2 separate regions of the Homo sapiens genome follow, and region 2 is linked to region 1. Evidence: fine-mapped expression QTL. A gene starts in region 1. The other region holds a variant in brackets. All regions are shown on one strand. Distances are from middle to middle.

Region 1 (5,390 bases):
AAGCCCTTGGGCTCCTAAGTGTTATGAGATCAGAGGGAAAGATCAAACACATGTGCCCTACTTTCACTTAGCAGTATCCAGATTTTTTTTTAAGACAGTCTTGCTGTGTTGCCCAGGCTGGAGTGCAGTGGCACAACTGCAACTCACTGCAGCCTCCGCCTCCCATGTTCAAGCAATTTTCGTGCCTCAGCCTCTCCAGTAGCTGGGTTTACAGGTGCGTTCTACTACACCCAGCTAATTTTTGTATTTTTAGTAAAGATGGAATTTCACCATGTTGGCCAAGCTGGTCTCGAACTCCTGACTTCAAGTGATCCACCCGCCTCGGCCTCCCAAAGTGTTGGCATTACAGGTGTGAGACACCGTGCCTGGCCGGTATCCAGATTTTTAAGTTTGCCAGGTATTATGTGAGCCATAGTTCCAAAAGTGTATATGCTTCTCATGAGTGGATGGACAATGCTCCTGGCATAGAGTAGGCTCTTAAAATTTCCTCATTTTAATTACTCGATGAAGGCACAATTGATCTAAGTTACACAATAAGGGTAAGGTACTAAATCTATTTTGCTCACAAAGGTGCTAAGGTTTGGGCAAAATATAAATCATTTGTTTTTAATTTAACAATACCTTTTGAGGTACAGTAGGGTCCACAGTTTCCCAAGGTTCTGGATTTTTTTTTCGATCAAGGCTAAAATTAAAGAAAGCCAATTAAACATTAAAAGATGTGAATTTAAACCAACACTGATACTGGGTTTATAAACATGTTAGGGACAAAACCAGTCTCATACTAAGGCATGTGTCTGCTAATGATCAGGAACCATCAGTAGCAACTAAAATTGATTGAAAATTCTCTAAGGGAGTTTCATGGTGTGGCTCAAACATTAAACATCAGTTCCCCTAAAGGGTAGGAGGTCTGTATTCTCTTGATTGGGCTGCATTGGGGAAGGATCCCACAAACCAAATAACCATGGGAGTGAAACTGCCAAGCCAAGGACATGCAATAATGTTCTTATCTCAGTCTGTGGGAGGGGCAGGTTGAACTCTGCAGGTGGTGAACTCCAGGGCTCTAGGCTCCTCTGCCAGCGGTTAGAGGACTGCCCTCTCCAGCCCTGCACCAGCCTCCAACAGTTTCAAGTTTATCTTTTCCTCATATTCCAGGATACATGTTTTTGTTTTTTACTTTCTTCTACCCAAAGTTGAGATTAGGTTCATCGTAGACAACTGAATCTATCAATTCTACCACATTAGTAAAAATCTAATAAGCTAAAATTTAAAATTTTAATTAAAATGATTGTTTCATGATATATATCTCCCAAAACCACTGAAGAACTTTAAATTTCAAAACTTAAAAAAAAAAAAACAAGCTTTACTTCACTGCCAGAGAGTGGAGAAGGGCCAATGGGTAAAAGAATAAACACAAGAAATAAACTAATTTGATTAATATCATGGGTTTTTTTAAATTTTTTCTTTTTTTTTTCTAATTTTCATTTTCTGACCCATTGGTAGACAATATCATAAGAGTTTTCTGATAAAAGATGCTTTTTAACCCTGACTCCCAGTTCACAATTTGGCATTCTCATCCATGGGAAAAAAATAGGAAACTTATACATTTCATAAACTAAAAGTCATCCAAACACTGCCAAAAACGTTTTTATAAATTGAGACCTACTTACATCACATCGGTTTTCCAAAGAGAATACACAGCGAAAGATGAGGCTCCACCCGCCGCCACAGTCATGAACACCACCAAGGGAATGAGCTAACAAATAACAGGTGGAGGGGACACATTTGGACACTTCAATATGAAACATTTGAAACACAGCAAAACAACTGTATTTATTTTATACTTTGTTCAAAATCTGTGCCATCTTTTCATCTTTAAAAATGAAAACTTTAGTCAAGATTTTCAATTGTTTTTAAAACTTACTTCCTTCCTTTTCATCAGGAGTTGGAAAAAGCTCATGATGACTTCAGCGAAGAATTGCCAAATCTAGAAATTAAAAATCCAAAGTATTGATCGCCTGGTGGGCGCCAAACCGTCCACCGCGCTCCGCAGGCCAACTGCGGGCCGGCGCGTCCGCGTCTCTGCAGATGGGAGACTCACCTGGACGCCGGGCGGTGCGCACGGACGATGGTAACGCCCGGAACCGAACGGGCCGGCGGCCTCCCCACCTTATATATAGCGACCACAACCGCCCCGGGTGGGCCGGGCCAGCGCGCTCTGGTCACGCGCGTGGGGCGGGGAGCGCGAGGGACCTGACTCGCTTTCCCCGTTGGGCACGCGACTCCCGGGCGCCCCCTGCAGGACATTCTGCGGCTGACGTGAAGCGCCCGAACGCGGGCGCTGGCGCCCCCTGCCGCTCGCCGCGGTCTTCCTTACCTGCCGACCCCGGTCGCTCTTGGCCCCCCTAGGTGCTTGTGAGGAGTTTGGAGGTTTGGGGAGTAGGAGGTGGAACCCCCTAAGAGGGGAGCGCAGATAGCCGAGGCCTGAGGGAAAGCCAACCCTTCTAAAAGGGTATCCGGGCCTGGCGCGGTGGCTTAGGACTGTAATCCCAACACTTTGGGAGGCTGAGGCAGGAGGATCACTCGAGTCCAGCCTGGCCAACGTGACGAAACCACGTCTCTACTAAAAAAAATTAGCGGGCGTGGTGCTGCATGCCTGCAGTCCCAGCTACTGAGGAGGGCGAGGCAGGAGAATCGCTTGAGTCCAGGCCTTTGAGGTCGCAGTGAGCCAAGATTACACCACTGTATTCCAGCCTGGGCAACAGAGCGAGACCCTGTTTTAAATAAAATAGAATAAAACAAAATATTTAAATAAGCAAATAAACAATAAAAGGGGGTCCGGAAAAATGAGCTGCAGACCGGAGGGTCCCAGGAGAGGCTCCCAGGTGCAGGCGGGTAAATTAGAATTAATCCAATCACATTAAAAGCTCCAAAATGTGGTCTGTGCACCTATGGAGATCATTAAAATTAAATTGTAAAGTTTATTTCAGAATAACTCCCAGGGCGTCCTGACTTTTTCTGCTAAAAAAAAAACCCAAAAAAACAAAAACAAACAAATAAACACAATAAAACAAAAACCCGAGGTCGAGGGAGAACAAACAAAAGAATAAGCTGGGGAGGCTGTCAGGAGAAGGTCTTTCTGCAAACGACCCTGCCGGCTGGTTTAGTCTTTGGGTTCCCTCCTAACTCTCCTCTAAGCCAGCAACCTCACTTTGCAGTTTGCAGGCGGCTGCAATGGTAACAATTTCACAGAGCCAGGGGCTGTGTGTGTGCCAGACACTGAGCCAGATTCCCCTCGGCAAGGTGGGTGCAAAGTCTTATTAAGACTCAGAGAGGCTCTGGTCACGTCACTGGTAAGTGGCGGCGATGCCATCAGAACGCAGGTCTGTCTGGTGCCCAACACCATGGTTCTGTCTGCACCCCTCTGTTAAATACTGCAATAAGTAAAGGACCAGTTATTTTAAAACAAACAGTTTGAAGTTCAAGCTGTAAGTTAAAGTTAAAAGGCAACATCTTAACGTTCCCTGAAATTGGCTAGACCCTGCTGTGTTTCAACCCCATTTTCATTCTAAACCTGGGTTTTGTAGTCAAATGGACCTGAGTTCAGAGCCTGCCCCTGCTATACTTATTATTAATAGCTGACTTTAAGTAAACTACTTAACCTTCATGAGTTTCAGTTTATATATCTGCAAAATGGGGGCAAACCTGGCAGGGGAGAGAGTTGGAAAAAATGTTAGAATATATGTAAAGCATTCTGTCCTGCTTGTAGTAGGCACTCAACAAATAGTTACTATATGCAAAGATTTGGTTTTTTGTTTGTTTTGTTTTTTGAGCCAGAGTCTCGCTCTGTCACCCTGGCTGGAGTGCAGTGGTGTGATCTCGGCTCACTGCAACCTCTGCTTCATGGGCTAAAGCGACTCTCATGCCTCAGTCTCCTGGGCATCTGGGAATACAGGCATGTGCCACCACGCCCCGCTAATTTTTGTATTTTTAGTAGAGACAGGTTTTGCAACGTTGGCCAGGCTAGTTTTGAACTCCTGACCTCAGGTGATCCGCCCCCCTCAGCCTCCTAAAGTGCTGGGATTATGGGTGTGAACCACCACGCCCAGCCTCAAAGATTTGTTTTATGTAAGGCTGATCATAAATGTAGTTTCCCACTCCCTTACTCTGGCAAGCGTTCTTACTGTTTAACCCCAGAACTGTAACTAGAGACATTTGCTAATTGGATGGATCTACGTTATATACTTCAAAGAAAATTCAACATTAATTCTCCTTGGTTTGTATTACCTAGAATCAGAGAAGCCTTTTAATGAAAGACTTCTAAGGCTACTTCTGTCAGAAGATTCTACAAAAAAACCTCATGTTATTAAGAAACAGAAGTTTTTCTAGGATGGAAGGAAGGGAGGGAGAGAGAAAGAGAAACAGGACGAAGAGAGAGAGAAGAAGAAGAAATAAATTTTACATTAGTATTTCATGAGCCCAAAATTGAAATTAAAAATGTGTAGCCATTGCCTATTAATGACCTTAAACACAGAGCCGTGCTTTGCCAGTATCATTTCTTTTCAAAATGTAATGCAGTTTTTTAGTAGTCTAGGCATTATTCTGAGGATGGGGGCATAGCAGAATTAAAAAGAGTAGTAAGACACAAATCACTTACTTCAAGGTGCTTGCAATTTAGTAACTCTAAATAACTCTAATGCAAGGCATGATCTGTTGCCAAGACAGGTGATTAATTCTAACTAAGGGGGTCTGAGAAAACTTACCAAAGGTGGGGTATTTATTTGAATATACAAAAAGACAAATCAACTGTAAAAAGACATTTTGGGGGCAAGTGGGAAACTTAAATAGGATCCAGACATTAGATGATATTAAAGGGATATTGTTAAGTTTCTTAGGTGTGATAATAGTATTGCAGTTTATATATATATATAACTGCAATATATATATAACTGCAATAACTGCAATATATATATATCTCGGCTCACTGCAACCTCTGCCTCCCAGGTTCAAACAATTCTCCTGCCTCAGCTTCCCGAGTAGCTGAGACCATGGGCGCCCGCCACCATGCCCAGCTAATTTTTGTATTTTTAGTAGAGAGGGGGTTTCACCGTGTTGGCCAGGATGGTCTCAATCTCTTGACCTCGTGATCAGCCCGCCTTGGCCTCCCAAAGTGCTGGGATTACAGGTGTGAGCCACCGCGCCTGGCCGGCGATTATATTTTTTAAATGGCCTCTCCCTTTTTCAGAGCTTGTATGTGGAAATATTTAAGGGAGAAATATTATGATGTCTGGGATTTACTTTAAAATATTTCAACTAGGCCAGGTGCGGTGGCTCACGCCTGTAATCCCAGAACTTTGGGAGGCCAAGGTGGGTGGATCACGTAAGGTCAGGAG
Region 2 (5,390 bases), 750 kb before region 1:
GGACCCAGGAAACAGGCCTGCCACAGGGGACCCAAGTTCCAGTCTTGCTCTGGTGGATCCAGGTACTAGGCCATCCTCTAAGGACCCAGGTGCCAGACCAGCCTACCTGCTAATCCAGTGGCCAGGACAGCCTGCTGAAGGGCTGCAGCCACAACCCGACCTGCAGATTCTGCCAGATGCCCTTCCCAGAATCTCTGGACACTGAGTGGAGAAGGGCTTTCCCTGCCAAAACCAGGATGTAAACTGGAATAGATGCCTACTTCTTCAAATGCGCAGACACCAATGCAAAGCCACACAGATTATGAATAAACTGGGAAACATACTGCCAAAGGAAAAAAAAAAGATAAAGAATCAGTACTTAGCCCTAAAGAAATGTACAAACTGCCTGACAAATAATTTAAATTATCTTCAAGAAACTCAGTGAGCTACAGGAGAGCACATATAGAAAACTAAACAAAATGTATAGTTCACAAGAAAAAATAAGAAATTCAACAAAGAGAAACAATTAAAAAAGAAACAAAGTTCAGGAGCTAAAGAACAGAGTGAACAAACTAAAAAATTTCATTGAGAGCTTCAACAGAAGACTTGATAAAGCAGAAAAAAGAATCTGTCAGCTTGAAGACAGGTCACTTGAAATTACCCAATGAGACCAAGGGAAGAAAGAATGAAAGAGTAAACTAAGCTTACAGGGCTTACAGGACACCATCAAACCAGCCAAAGCATACATTACGTCCCAAAGGGGCAGATGAAGAGATAGGGGCAAAAAGCTTATGTGAAGAAATAGTGACAGAAAACTTCCCAAATCTGGAGAGATGAATATACAAATGGATCCATGAAGCCCAAAGAACCTCAAATATAAAGAAATCTTTACTCAGACATCATAAAATTGTCAAAGACAAAGAATCTTGAAAGCAGTAAGAGAAAAGTAACTCATCACACACAAAGGAACTTTCATGAGACCATCAGCAGATTTTCAGTGGAAACCATCCAGGCCAGGCGGACATGGGATGATATATTCCAACCGTGAAAGAAAACAACTGTCAATTAAGACTACTATATACAGAAGGCTGTCCTTCCAAAATGAAGGCAAGATAAGGACTTCCTCAGACAAACACAAGCTATGGCATTTCACCATCACTAAATCTGCCTTATAAGAAATGCCAAAGGAAGTTTTTCCAGGTTAAACGAAAGGATGCTACCAACACAAAAACAGATTAAAATATAAAATGCAAAGTAAAAATAGGAGTATTATCAAATTCAGATTACTCTGATACTGTATTACTTATGTTTGGTATTAATCACTTTTATTGTGTTATAAAAGCTAAAAAACAAAAATAATTCTAGGCACAATAACTGTGGTAATGGGAAGATTGTATAAAAAGATGTAAATTGTGAAATAAAAACATAAAAAGTGAGGGGAGGAGAAGTTAAAGTATAGAGTTTTTGTACACAGTCAAAGTTAAGTTGCTTATCAGTTTAAAATATGGTTACCCAATACTATAAAAGATATTTCTGTGAGCTTTAGGGTAACCACAAAGAAAAACTAAAGTAGATATGCAACAGATAAAGAAATCAAAGAAAGCCGCTAGAAATAAATAAATTACAAAGTAAGACACTGATACAGTTTGGATATTTGTCCCCTCCAAATCTCATGTTGAAATTTGATCCCTAATGTTGGAAGTAAGGCCTAGTGAAAGGTGTTTAAGTCAGAAGGGCACATCCTTCATGAATGGTTTAGCGTTGTCCTTGCAATAATGAGTGAGTTGCCACTCTATGAGTTCAAGGAAGAGCTTGTTGTTTTTCAAAGCCTGGCACACCCTTCCCCCCTCCCTTGCTCCCTCTCTTTCCATGTGACACACTGGTTCTTTTCACCTCTCAATATGACTGGAAGCTCCCATAAGCCCTTACCAGGAGCAGATGCTGCTGGTGGCATGCATCTTATACCGTCTTCCAAACTATGGGGAAAACCAGTCTCTTTTCTTTATAAATTACCCAGCTTCTGTTATTCTTTCACAGCAGCACAAAACAGACTAACAGACACCAAGAGAGGAAGAATAGAACAAAGGAACTACAAAACATTAAAAAAAAAATGGAATAGGATGTTATTTCCTACCAAAAATTACATTAAATTTAAACAAATTACCCAATCAAAAGAATCAAAGAGCTACCCAGGAATTAAAGAACACATTGAGTAAGCAAAAGTGATTTATGCCACACATAAGTTACCCAATCAAAAATTACCCATTCATACAGTAGCTAAATGAATCTTTAAAAAAGATCCAGCTATATGCTGCCTATAAGATAGTCATTTTTAGGTTTAAGAACAAATATAGGCTGAAAGTAAATAGATAGAAGGAGATATTCTATGCAAATCATAACCCAAAGAGAGCATGGGTAGCTATATTAATATCAGACAATATAAAAGTGAAGTCCAAAACTGTAACAAGAAACAAGGGCATTATATAGCAATAAAAGTGTCAGTTTATCAAAAGGATGTAACAATTTCAAATATATGTCACCCAACATTGGAGCACTTAATTTATAAAGCTAATATTAATATAACTGAGGGGAGAAATAGACAGCAATACGATAATAGTAGGGTACTTCAATACCTCACTGTTAGCAATGGACAGATCATCCAGACAGAAAATCAATAAGAAAACAGCAGACTTAAACAACACTATAGACCAAATGGCCCTA[A/G]CAGATATATAAAGAACATTCCATCAAACAGCAACAGAAAAAATTCTTTCCAAGTACACATGAAACATTCTCCAGGTTAGATCATGTTAGGCAACAAAAATGTCTTAACAAATTTAAGAAGACTGAAATTATATCAAGTTTTCTTCCCAACTATAGTGGCATGAAACTAGAAATCAATACTCGGAAGAAGATTGGAAATTCACAAATACATGGAATTAAAAATATACTCCTGAACAATCAATGGGTCAAAAAAAAGAGAAATAAAAAATATATTAAGACAAATAAAATAGAAAACACTATATCCAAACTTTTGGTATTTAGCAAAAGCAGTTCAGAAGGAAGTTTGTATAAATGCCTGTATTAAAGAAGAAAGAAAAATCTCAAAGAAACAACCTAAATTTATACCTTAAGAACTATAAAAAAGACCAAACTATGACCAAAGTCAGCAGAAGGAAGGAAATAATAAAGACCAGAGCAGAAATAAGACACGAGAAAAATAATGGGAAAAAAATCAATGAAACTGAGTTTTTTAAAAATAAAATTGACAAACCTTTAGCTAGACTAAATAGGTAAACAAAGAAGACTCAAGTAAAATTATAAAAGAGGAGATATCACAACTACTATCACAGAAATACAAAGAATCATAAGAGACTACTGTGAGCAATTATATGCCACCAAATTGAATGACATAGATGAAATGGAAAATTTCCTAGAAACATACAACCTACCAAGATATCATGAAGAAAAAGAAAATCTGAGAAGACCAAAAATGAGTGGGGAGATTGAATCCATAATCAAAAATCTCCCAACAAAGAAACTCTCAGGACCTGGGGACTTCACTCGCATATTTTATCAAACATTCAAATAATTAATGCTGATCCTTCTCAAACTGTTCCCCAAACATGATGACTGGAAATACTTTCAAATTCATTTTAGAAGGCCAGCATTATCCTGATACTAAAGCCAGACAAGGACACTACAGAAAAAAAAGAGTTATAAGCCACTATCCATGATGAGTATACACACAAAAATCCTCAACAGAATACTAGCAAAATGAATTAAACAGGACATTATAGCAATCATAGTATATGATCAAGTGGGATTTATTTCTGGAACGCGATGATGTTTTAACATACACGAATCAATAAATGCAATACACCACTTTAACAAAATGAAGTATAAAATTTATATGATCATCTGATAAAGAAAAAGCATTTGACAAAATTCAACATCATTTATGACATAAATTCTCAACAAATTAGGTACAGAAAGACTTGTACCTCAACATAATAAAGGCCATATATGACAAACTCACCACTAGCCTAATATTTAACAGTGAAAACCTGAAAGTATTTCCCCTAAAATCAGGAACAAGACAAGGATCCCCACTCTCACCACTTCTGTTCAATGTATTACTAGAAGTCCTGGCATGAGCAATTAGGTAAGAAAAAGAAAAAAAAAAAAGGCTTCCAAATTGGAAAGGGAGAATTAAAATCTTCTGTTTGCAGATGACATATTATATACAGAAAACCCTGAAGACCTTACCAAAAACCGTTAGAACAAATGAACAAATTCAGTAAAGTTGCAGGATACAAAATCAACATGCAAAAATCAGTAGTGTTTCTATATGCTAACAGTGAATAAATTAAGAAAACAATCTCATTTACAATAACATCGAAAATAAAATTTAATTCTTAGGAGTAAATTTCACCAAGGAAGTGAAAGATCTGCATACTGAACACAATAAATATTAATAAAAGAAATTAAAGACCCAAAAAATGAAAAGATATTCCATGTTCAAGGATTGAGTGAATATTGTTAAAATGGTCATACTACCCCAAAGCAATCTAACCCCTATCAAAATTCTAATGAAAATTTTCACAGAAATACGAAAAAGTATTCTTGAAATTCGCAATGCTGTGACACTTGCCTCTTCTGACTTTCAAATTTCTGTAACCCACCTCAGGATTATTAGGAGCTTATAAGCTGCTTTACAACATTAACAACTGCCATAGTCGAAGCAAATGTTTGACGCACTGGTTATAAGGTAAAATCTAGGGCCTGATTTCCCCATTCCCATCAAGCGACATCATGTGGTTTCATTCCAGAAATAATGGTTTTCCTTGCAGAGTTCAAAGAATTATTACAGTAAAACCCTACAATTTTGTTGCCATAAGATAAATTCATTTTGTCTAGCTTCACTAGAGTATTTTGTAGCTCTCCAACAAAGTGATCCTGTCTAATAGCATTGCTTCCTTGGGAACTGACATTCCTGAATCTATAACAGATTCATCACTGGCAATGCTGTCAAGCTACACTGAGTATAGAGGCCAATATGTAGTGAGCAAATAATCCACTAAACTAATTTCTTTTGCAAAAGACTCATTAACTAAGAAACCAAAATTAAAAGGCTATAGCAGTCATAATATTTGGAGATAAAATAGCTATAGACAAGGAATTACACATGAAGTCCAGGCAGATCAAAGCTGATGCAAGTCCCCTTCCTAACAGAAAGTTTGGGGAGTAGAGGCGGGGTGGGGTACAGCTCTGGTATGACTTAGTAGAATATTGCTAGGCTATAAGGAATTAAAAAAAAAAAAAAAACCTATGATTGATTTCTTTTTTCGTCAAACTTCTGTTCAGGCTGTTTTCTGTGATTCAACATTAAATGTTGGTTTGAAATTGTAAAA

Alleles and levels. Positions count from the first base shown, and alleles are read on the strand shown. Sizes are in standard deviations (SD) of each study's normalised expression.
For the expression in whole blood of the gene that starts at base 2,144 in region 1, allele A in region 2 goes with a higher level than allele G (moderate effect, 0.54 SD a copy in GTEx).

The links. PIP is the estimated chance that this variant, and not a neighbour inherited with it, causes the effect.
Region 2: its variant is fine-mapped to the expression of COXFA4L3 in whole blood (GTEx, PIP above 0.99).

Annotation. Positions count from the first base shown.
Region 1 is chr15:45,427,364-45,432,753 of GRCh38, reverse strand. It overlaps COXFA4L3 (cytochrome c oxidase associated subunit FA4L3), which reads right to left and starts at 2,144. Exons shown (of 5, transcript NM_197955.3): 1 at 2,099-2,144; 2 at 1,922-1,984; 3 at 1,668-1,753; 4 at 622-682. The coding sequence starts at 1,957. RefSeq lists a silencer at 2,122-2,201.
Region 2 is chr15:46,177,886-46,183,275 of GRCh38, reverse strand. No RefSeq gene overlaps it. Among named protein-coding and RNA genes, the nearest start is that of SQOR, 550 kb to the right of the region's middle. The variant A/G (reference allele first, on the strand shown) is at 2,701.